2 separate regions of the Homo sapiens genome follow, and region 2 is linked to region 1. Evidence: fine-mapped expression QTL. A gene starts in region 1. The other region holds a variant in brackets. All regions are shown on one strand. Distances are from middle to middle.

Region 1 (5,373 bases):
GGAGGTTGAGGTGGGAGGATCTCTTGAGCCTGCGAGGTCGAGGCTGCAGTAAGATGTGACTGCAGCTGCATTCCAGCCTGGGCAATAGAGTGAGAACCCGTCTCTTAAAAAAAAAATCAAATATAATATTACTCACTCATATCTCTGGTTTTAGTTCTTAATCTAATACAGAATGAACAATACAAGATAAAAGGATAAAAGCAAAAGGGGCAGACAAAAATATAATTTCCACAGAAGACTTTGTATCAGCCAACTCCAGATACACAGGAATAGGCAAAGGCACTTTCCTGGGGCCAAGAGAACATGACCCCCTTTGATTTCCTATGGTTGCCTTCTGCCAGTCCTAAAAGAGCTGGCAGGCTGGTATCAAGCAGTGAACATTACAGAAACAGCATAGTAAGAGGTAGATAATTCAGAAATCCCAGCGGTATATTCAAATATAGGTTGCTGGTATGAGGAAAAACAACCTACAATCTTCACAAACCCAAAAGTCAATAACAACTAATTTCTCCTCTCTCTTCCTTATCTCCCTCTGATGCTATCCTCTCCCTTTTCTTGGACTCCTTCTATCGAGATTATACTATAAACTACTCCAAGTAAGAACTATTCAATTAATTTTAACATCCTCCAAATTTCCCTTGCAGTGAGAGAAAATTGAGTCAACACTGGTCTATCCCACATGTATTTATAAAGTAAAAGAATAATAATGTACTTCTAAGGTCACTTCTAAGATTGTACTAAGGCTGCAACAACAGTTCCAAGAGAGTTTAAGCATGCTGCCTCACCCCAGCGCTTGCGGCTCTCCTAGCCCTACCTCGGTCTGCCTTGGTTTCTGTAACCTGGCTGTTCTGTGCAATCACTTGTACATTATAGGTGTGAAAACAGTGAGAGAGGGAAATCAACTCCATGACGGTGGGGCACAGAAAGCGTGAACCATGATTCAGAGCCTTACAGTCAACTGTCATGTGTATGTGTCATACTCAAGGCAATATCCTGCTTCTTGAGGCTCCTTCCTCTTTGCAGCCTGCTGCCTGTGCTGTATGCTATCAGCCCTTTGTGACTCAACTGAGACAGACTAGAGTCAGAAAAGCGGATGGAATTCTTACACAGCATGAAGTAGTATAAGAAATCCTAGGCAGAAGGAAGTTCAGGTAGCTCTCAGGGCTAGGAAACTCCTCGACAACGAGGGACAACCAAATCCAGCATTTAAAAACTCTGTATTTTAATTCTTCTCTTAATATAATACTTCCTTCTTTATTGATTGCTGAGCATTCTAGGAACTAGGATAGGATTATTTGGCCTGAAGGAAAGAATACTTCTCGAACCTGATTTGTTAAATGAATCGAGATTGCTTTAAAGTGAAAGAAGGGAAAAGAGAGTTATCTCTTTTGCAGGAGCACATTTCAATCACTTATCACTCTGGGTTAGCATAAATCAGATAAACTATCCTGTGGGTTGTGCAAAAAGCAAAACAAAACAAAAAAACACAACTTGTAAAAAAAACAGAGCAAGATAACTGAAGTAGACAAACTCTGCACAGAAGTAACTAATGGCAGGGAGGAGAAAAATTTTTGTATATTATATTATACTGTGTATAATATAATGTACCTGTGTATCATTAGAGCTGTTAAATTAAAAAAAAAAAAAAAAAAAAAAGGAAATGGATGCAGAAGCTCTGCCCTCCTGGGGCCAGAAATGGCAATTTCAGTGAACTAGGGCCGACAACCACATCCAAAATTAAATATTTCAAAAGCTTAAAATAAAAAATACTAGAAAAATTATGCAGAGCACCTATTTCATTTGTTAAAAGACATTTAATTAGTGTTTCACATATTACCACCCAAATGAATAAAGCGATTGTGAAATTCAAGAAAACAATCAAACTACAAGAAAACTCCAGATAAAACTACAAAGTTAAACATAAACTTGGCCCAGGACCACTACAGTGGCTGAGGGATGACAAATACAGTTCTTTATATTGGTAACCCTTAGCCATCCATCCCATTCTATAGAAAGAGGACAGTACCATCTTTGACCCCAGGCCCCCTGTCCTGAGGTGCTTCTACTTAATGCCAGGAACAACTGTGCTAGAAAAAAAGACTGCACCCACCCCAGCTCCAGATGCACACATTAGCTGGTCGGTGAGATGCAGCAGCCTGGCTTCCTCCCTCTACCCACTCCTTGGGGGCGGGGCTGGAAGAGGAGAATGATGAAGAGATGTTGGGGGTTCAGGAAACCTTCACATTTGGCCCCTTTTCTCTCTCCCCACTCAGGATGGAAGGTCAAAGTTAGGACCAAAACTAGAGAAGTGGGTTTTGCATAGGGGGACAATGGATTCAACAGAAGTCCTCTGGATCTGGCAACTGTCAAAAAACCCTCTTTCCACTTCTTTCCCCCTCACGGAAAGCCATTAGGAATCACCTCTGTCTGGGTCATAGGAACAGCCACACAGCATAGGAGGCACAAGCCCCGTGAACAAAATTCGGTATTAAGAATAAGGAAAAAGAAAGAAGACCCGAGGGCAAGAGGGCAGGGCAGGACCTCTTCTTTCTACTGGAGAAGAGACATCCAGGGAGGAGGCACAGCCGAGGGGAGCGCAAGCTAGAAAAGCTACGACGGAATCCCCACCGAAACCGCAGCAGGGGTACTGGAAGGGGAGGAATCCGCGACGCAGCGACCGCGAGCCAAGGGCAGCGGCGGGCCGGGCCGTGACTCAGTGAAAGCCGCAACGGCCGGGCCTCGGAAAACGGCGGGCGCGAAGCCGCCGGGGCCGGGGCGAGAACGGCGGCGGGGGCTCACCATGTCCTTGGACGAGCCCAGCTTCTTGAGGCCGTCCAGGGGCAGCAGGTCGGCGGAGTCCTTGTGGATGAACTGCACCGCCTGCTTCATCCGGCGCTGCTGTCGCAGTGACGCCGCCTCCCGCATGTCGGTCTCCTTGCGGCCGCCCTCAGTGAGGAGCCCTGAGTAAAACATCGCTGAGGCGCCGGCGGCCCGGTAGCCCACAGCCCCCCGGCAGCCTCAGCCTCGAGCTCCTCCAGCGCCGCAAGGGCCCCGAGCCGCGCCTTTTATAGCCGAGCGTGACGTCGCGGGGAGCAGCCAGTGCGCGCGCGGGGGGCGGGGCCGGCACAGAGTCCACGCCCCGCGCGGCTCCCTCGCGTCCCGCGTCCCGCGTCCCGCGTCCCCTGCTCACCCGGTGGCAAAGCCGGCGAGGAGGCGGCGGCGCTGGTGGGGACTGACCCGGCAGTCCGAGAATCCACCGCGGCCTTTTCACCCAACCGCCCCCTCCTGCGTGGGGGCCCCGCATCCCCTGGACTGGCGTGGGCTCTGGGGCCCGATGCCCTGGCAGCCCCGGCCATCTCTGCCGCTGGCCGCGGGTACCTGCTCACCTGTCCACGCCGTGGCCGACCCGGGGATCACCGACAGCCGGGCCATGCCTCGAGTCCCGCCGCCCGCGCCGCTGCTCGGCTTCTCAGAAACGCACCTCCACGCCGCCAGCCGGGGCTCCAGGGTCCACCGCCCGGGCCCGGAGGACTGGCGACTCCCTCCGAGGTTGGGAGCGCTCCGGATTTCTCCAACTTCAGGTCGGTCCCCACCCACCGGGCCACGTGACTGGGGAGGGGGCAGCCGGTGCAGGCGTGTGGAGGAGGCTTTCGGGACCTCCTCCCCCGGGCACCCTCTGCCTGCAGCCCGGCACCCGGCCCGCGTTTCCGAGCCGGGGGAGCAGGTGCAGTCGGAAGCCCGCGGGTGGGCGTGGGGCGGGGGAGTGGCGAGGGTCCCCCGCCTCCGCGGGAGCGCACGCGGCTGCGAGCCCTACACCTGCTCTCCGACCAAAGAAGCACCTGTTTTTCTCAATAAGTGCTAGGGCTTACCATCTAAAGGATCGTTCACCATCCCTCCAGCGTCCTTAGTAGGAGCGATTGGAACCCGTTTTTCTTCCTGAATAATCCATACTTTTAAGCCATTCTAATCGGGCCTTCAGGCATCCTGGATTCTGGTCTCGACATTGTGATTTGACACAAATCACGTTTTCACTCTGGAAACCACAACTACTCCCTCCACCCCATCACGCAGGAGCAGACCTGGATAAGAAATATGTGCACTCTGCAAAGAACCAATGATAAAAGTAACAATATCGACGCTTACTGAGCCTTTACTATGTGCCAGGTACTAGACTAGACACTTAAAATGCAGTATCTCATTGGATCCTGGCAACAGCTTGTAAGATAGTATTCTCATCACCCCCATTTTACAGGCAAATACCTGATACCTTCTGTCTGGCCTCCTGAATGCTCCTTGGTTCCATTCCAATACGTTGTTCACTGTGCTGCCAGAGTAATCTTCTCAAACGATAAGTGTGATCATCTCACTTCCCTGCTAAGAGCACCTCAAAAGGCTTCCTATTGCTCTTAGGAGAAACCCACATTCTTGCATGGTCTGCCTAGACCCTGCATATTCACTCTGTACTTCAGCCTCATGGGCCTTCTTCCAGTTCCTTCCAGTCACCTGTTGCCAAATGGCCTGCCTTTGACTGTCCTGTTCCCTCTGTGTGCAGTGCCCCCTCCTACCCTCTTCAGGAAACTCCTATGCTTCTTCCAGACCTCAGCTCCATTATCATTTCTTTAGGAAAGCCTTCTCTGACCTTCCAGAGAGAGTGAAGTCTCTCTAATTATATACTATCTATCTCTTGGGCATTTGACACTTTCTGTGGGGGTAGGGGTAGGGGGGTACTGGTTGTTGGATTAATATTTGTCTCCTCCACTGATTGGAACCTCCAGGAAGGTGACTGAACCCATTTTTTGCTTAGCATTGATGCCCTAATATGCAGAGGGTTCTCAAATACTAGTGAAAGGATGGCAAAAAGTTAAGGTCGTACCAAAGAAATCAAGTGGTAAAGCTGGCATTTACTCCCAGAACCTGTGCTGGACTACCTAGACCTGGAGAGACTGGGTTTGGCCTCATGAAGCTGCTTCTTTTACTCTGTTCTGCCTTCAACACTTGCCCCAGTTTCAAAGACTGTTTGTGGGAAAACAAATACAGAAGGCTGCTCACTTGGCTTCAAGGAAGCCCCAGGGCTGGATTCCTCCCTGTGTGCCCATCCCCTACTTTCCCCTACACACGGAGGACAGAGTCTCTAGGAGACAGGTGGGATTGCTGTTCACCTTCCAGTCCCCTGGCACACTTCCAGCAGTGAACAACAGTGGCTGCCCTGGCCCCTTCTGTCCCATCACCTGGATCCCTGCCTGATCACTCCTCCAGGTGCAGATCACCCAGGGAACAGTGAAAGTCAGCTTTGCCTTGTCCGTCTAGGAGAGGTGCCTCTGAGTTTGGCAAAGCATCAGGGCAGGTCCAACAGTGAGGGCCCCTAGGGCTTGG
Region 2 (5,373 bases), 1.0 Mb before region 1:
AGGAAGTTACGGCTGAGATGGAATTTCCACAGTATATGGAAAATTAGAACAAGCCCACAACACCTATAACTAAGGTATCGTTTCAAAGTTCCCCGCCCCCAGCTGCCTGCCCACCCTACCACAGTAATTTCCCTTTTTGAGGCTGTCGACAATTTTACCCAAATCTCTTTCTACCCAGCCCTTCAAACAGCTTCCCAAGAACTCCCTAGCCGATCATTTTCCTGACTAGAACCCTCAAATTACTAATCCATTTTATTCCTAAAATTATATCACATCATTCTACTGACCAGAGCCACCTAAATTAACTGATCCTTTCAACCAGTCCCACATACCATGCCAACCACCCTGCCCTACTAAGCCATGGGCCCACCACCCCACCATTTCTCACTTACTCTCTATTCCCCTGAGAATCTGTTCAGCACCAGTTACCCAGTGGTAGTGAACTTGGTTTTGATGGTTGCTTTGACAGAGAACATTAGCTTCATAGGCATAAATTGTATGTTCCTGTACCTTCTCAGATGGGCTTCAATTTACACTGAGATCATGAGCATTTTTACCTTAGGGGAATCTTTATCCAGTGGACAACCTGACACCAAACCCATGGATGCACTGATCCTATGGAACCCCAACCTCAAGGGCACCTTGATCACTTGACTCAGAAGGGAACATGGCAACCCCGAGGGAACACATCATCCCCAGGAACACTGACTCTCTGTGCATACTGGCTGTGTAAGAACTCTGTCTCTGTGGGCCCCCTGACCCAGCAAGCAGATTAATCTCAGGTGGCAATGAGTCCCTAAAGCATCTCACTGGCCCGCTGACCCCAGGTACACTAACAGCATTTGCTCCATAGGCATCATTCATTCATTTAGCATTCACTGGGCTTCTATTATTTGCCAAATATTATGTTAGCATTGAATGAAGAAATATACACTTTATGATAACTGGGGGGTAGAGGAGAAGGGGAAACAGGCAGTTTTGGAGGCTGTGTCTATCTCCAGCTGGTGGGCGGAGGGAGGGATTGAGGCCCCTTTCCTCTTAGCGGCAGCTCAGGAGGGATCCCAGGATCTGTGCTTCCATCTGGATCAGGTGAAGCACACACAGTGAGACTGTCTTTTTGCTCTCTGCAGGGGTGGGCACAGGATCCCTCTGTTCCTGTTGCTAAATTGGTCTGCTGGAGGACTGCACTATATTCTGACCACCTCTGTAAGGGACAAGGGATATGTATGACCTTACAATGACTTTGGTGTGCTCTCTATTAGGGCCAGACAGGGAGGGCAAACCAGCTCACAAAAATCTCAGTCTCCTTTTTTGAACAATGATATTTTTATTGTTATGAGTAACATTTATCTTTAAGGATTGGAAAATATAGAAAAAAGAGAAAGAAAAAAATAGAAATAATTCAAATTTGCCCTCAACGATCATTATTGTTAACATGTTGTGCCAATCCCTTTTCTCTACAAACAACTTTTTTTAAAACAGTGTTTTGAATTTTCTATTTTGGCTTTTTTTAAACTAAACATTTTAGAATGATTATTATCCAGGTCATTAAATCTTCAAAAACCTTATTTTAAATAGTTTTATAGGTTCCTGTTATACGGGTAAACTATGATTTACTTAAGTGATTTTTTAGTGTTGGGCATATGGGTTCTTTCTGATTTTGTGCTAATAGATATCTTCCATGGTCGACAACTGTGTGCAGACATAAATGTCTGAGTTTCTGCTTCTTTAGGTCAATCTCTCTTCCCTGCTGTGTGTCATACTTTGTGTCCTGGGAAGCCCATGTCGTGCTGCTCAACTTCTGGGTTTGAAGGAGACCATCAGGAAAATGCACCTGTGGCTCTGCATGCCCCCTTTCCACAGGATTCAGACACTACGGACGGAGGGCATGGGAAACTGAGAAGGGACCAGAGACAATATTATTCCACTTTTTGCCCTCCAAGGCCCATACCATAAACCTCCCCAACTCCTCCATTGCCCAAGCCAGAGCCCTCATGAAAATGAACTCAATCAAATTAACTTTTGAAGAGTAAACGAGATTCTAGGGACGTGGGAACCTGATCGCACTTCCTTTTTCCCACCCACAATCTATGGCCACTCCTGAGCCTGTGGGCTGCTTGAAGGCAAGTGAGGCCTTGACCTCTGCTGGAATCCTAAGAGAGAGAATTATTTAGAGTCTCATGGGTCAGGAGAGTCCTGGGAGGCCAGTACAGAGGGTTTCTAGCAAGGACCAGAAAGCTATAAAGCTGGGAAGAATGTGGCCCACAGAGATCTTTGGACCCATGAAGGGAAGCAAGTGTGGGGGTCTTGCTGGATTCTTGCTCTGGCAAGAAGGATTGAACAGGTAAACTGAGTCTTCCCTGCCCTGACACAGGACAGTGTAATGAGACAAGGGCTTCAGCAGGGCACTGGTGTCTTACCTGGTTCTGCCCCATCCATCCCAGATAGACTATTTCCCCTCCCAGCACCCACAGAGCTGCCAACAACAGCCAGACTCAACCCCAACAAGCTTCACTCCACTCTCCTTAGAACATCGAGGAATCAGTTCTTACTGAAAGTTTACTTGGTGCAGCCTATAACTGTGACTTCAGGTTCTGAGCATATCTGATGAAGAAATTAGCATTTTCCCCACATACTAGATATAGTCAGCATTTCCAGGAGTGTTCAAAGAGAACCCAGGTTGTTTAAGATAGAAATCTAATTGCCAGCACTGACTTGCTTCTCGTTGCAGAGTCTAGGAATCCATGCATGCTCAGTAATGCAAGTACTTGCAAGCTGACAAAATTCCATTTGTTTGTCCCCCTTATTCCCCTTATCACCAGCGAAGTCTCCCAGAAGGCAAGCAGTTGCCTATGGCGATGATCTAAGCTGTGAATTAGATGTTTGTCCCACAAT[A/G]GTTTGTCTGATCCATCTTGTCTGTCAGTCCTGTGAAGGTATTTTCTGTCTCATTAGGGTCTTCCAGTACTTTGCTTAAGTTTTGTCCCATGATGATGGTCATCAATTTTATAATGGTCTCTGTCCCACAATGTTGGTCCCAACTATAACAGGCCACCAGTCTCAGGAGCATTGCTCTATGCCAGAGGCTTTCTGAGTCATGGCCACTAGAGGACACCCTTACACCACTTAAAGGCCAAAGGTTGCCAGTGGCATTCCCTTAGTTCCTGAGCTGTTTTCTGAGGGCCTGCCCAGAGAAAGCACCTTCTGCTTTGGAGAGGTCAGGATGGTGCCAAAAAAGTGACCAAAGCTTTTGGAGCTGCTTCCCTTGGCCACCTTTGAGCCACAGAGTGATGAAACCAAACCATCTTCCTCTATCCCCACCCCCAAAATCACTCCAAATAAACACATAGTATTTCTAAACTTGGTTTGATAACACAGTTTCAAGTAAATCTATGGCCCACTCCCCTTCCAATCAGATTATAATCTGCAAACCCCTCTATACAGAAATTCTGGAGCTGCTGTTGCCCAGGAGAAACCCTAGCTCAGGACCTGACAACCAAAATGAGGTTCCTGGAGCTTTCCTTCCAGGGAAAGGGTGATGCTTATAAGAGAACCTGGACTTTCCACATGGTACTAGAGTTCTGGACAGGAAAGTGAGGGACTCTTGCCAAATTCTGGAGGTTAGAGAAGTGAGAGGTACAAGATAGGATCCTGTCCAATGGTCCCAGTAAAATTGCTTTGTTGATTGGAAGTGCAAGGGATAGACAGAGGTAATGGTTAGCTGACAATGGGAGCCCCAGATTTAGATATAAAAATTCAGCTGGAGGGAGGACATAGTTTGGGTCCCCTTGCAACAGAACATGTGGCAAAGACTTGGGGAAAAATAGTTTACGTGTGAGGTGATCTGCATTTGATTCCTATGGTTACCATAATAAGTACAACAGTTCACCCTTATCCATGCGGGATACATTCCAAGACCCCCAGTGGATACCTGAAGCCATGGATGGTATCGAACTCTATATATACTGTGTTTTTTCATAAACATACATACCTATGATAAAGTTTAATTTATAAATTAGGCACAGTAAGACATTAACAACAATAACTAATATAAAACAGAACAATTATAACAATATACTGTAATAAAAGTTATGTGGATGTAGTGTCTCTCTTTCTCCCCCCCCCCCAGCCTCTCAAAATAACTGTACTGTACTGCATGTAACTGAAACTGCAGAAAGCAAAACCATGGATAAAACCATGAATAAGAGGGGGCTGTTGTATCATAAATTTGGTGGCTTAAGACAACAGAAATCTATTTTTTCAGTCTTGGAGGCTAGAAGTCTGAGATCAAGGAACGGTCTTTGATACTGCCCCCAAAGCCTTTATTTTTTTTTATTTTATCTATTTATTTTTTTGAGATGGAGTTTCACTCTTGTTGCCCAGGCTGGAGTGCAATGGCACAATCTCAGCTCACCACAACCTCTGCCTCCTGGGTTCAAGCGATTCTCCTGGCTCAGCCTCCTGAGTAGCTGGGATTACAGGCATGTGTCACCATGCCTGGCTAATTTCTTGTGTTTTTAGTAGGGATGGGGTTTCTCCATGTTGGTCAGGCTGGTCTCAAACTCCCAACCTCAGGTGATCCGCCCGCCTCAGCCTCCCAAAGTGCTGGGATTATAGGCATGAGCCACCGCGCCCAGCCAGGACTTCAACATATCTTTTAAGGGGGACAAAACTAACCCATAATATGATCTTAGAAGTAAAAGCAAATGGAGACTAGGATGGGAAGAACTTAATGCAACTGAAGGTATCAAGCTGGTTATTTCTGCAGCAACAGGGACTCAGTCCCACTGAGGAACCTCCAAGGAGCCATGTGACATACCCCTCAGAATTCTCCCACTGAGGGACTGGAAGGCTGGGGAATTTAGCCTGTTACCCCACTGGCTGAAGAATTCTCCTGGGAGGCTGGCTAACTTCCTCATATTTAGAGGCTACAACTACAGTAGGGCTGCATCCTTCCCTAGCTAATTAAGAGAGATTGAGGTGCGATGTGAGCCCTGCGTGTGGGGCTGTCCACCGCCACAGTGCTGAAATCAAGGAGGCACCCCCAGTGTTAGAGAGGGTACCCCCCTTACACTGCTCAGATCTGCTCCTCCCCCACAGCAAGTCCACACTATCACTGACTCTTTTAGAGTGTGGACTCTTTACGAGTATGCAAGCTCTTAAAAAAAGAAAAGGGACTTTCAGGAGTAGAATTAGTGGAATAAACTATAGTCGCCTGTGGCAGCTGGTCCTCAGCCACAATTAATATTCATCATCTCCCCGCTCCCCCTCCAACCCACCAATTCCAGATTTCTTTCATGCCTGGTCAACACTAAAGTTGGTCTGGGCTGCTCTTCCTGAGGGCCTGGGCCCTTGACTGTCTTGCCACTACCCTAC

Alleles and levels. Alleles are on the strand shown, and positions count from the first base shown. SD is a standard deviation of normalised expression in the study named.
As copies of A replace G in region 2, the expression in monocytes after LPS of the gene that starts at base 3,039 in region 1 goes down (large effect, 1.8 SD a copy in Quach 2016).

Evidence for each region. PIP is the estimated chance that this variant, and not a neighbour inherited with it, causes the effect.
Region 2: its variant is fine-mapped to the expression of NRIP3 in monocytes after LPS (Quach 2016, PIP 0.95).

What each region holds. Positions count from the first base shown.
Region 1 is chr11:9,000,963-9,006,335 of GRCh38, forward strand. It overlaps NRIP3 (nuclear receptor interacting protein 3), which reads right to left and starts at 3,039. Exons shown (of 7, transcript NM_020645.3): 1 at 2,800-3,039. The coding sequence starts at 2,973. It overlaps NRIP3-DT (NRIP3 divergent transcript), which reads left to right and starts at 3,126. Exons shown (of 3, transcript NR_183663.1): 1 at 3,126-3,581. RefSeq lists an enhancer at 2,216-3,135.
Region 2 is chr11:8,003,462-8,008,834 of GRCh38, forward strand. No RefSeq gene overlaps it. Among named protein-coding and RNA genes, the nearest start is that of CASC23, 10 kb to the right of the region's middle. The variant A/G (reference allele first, on the strand shown) is at 2,896.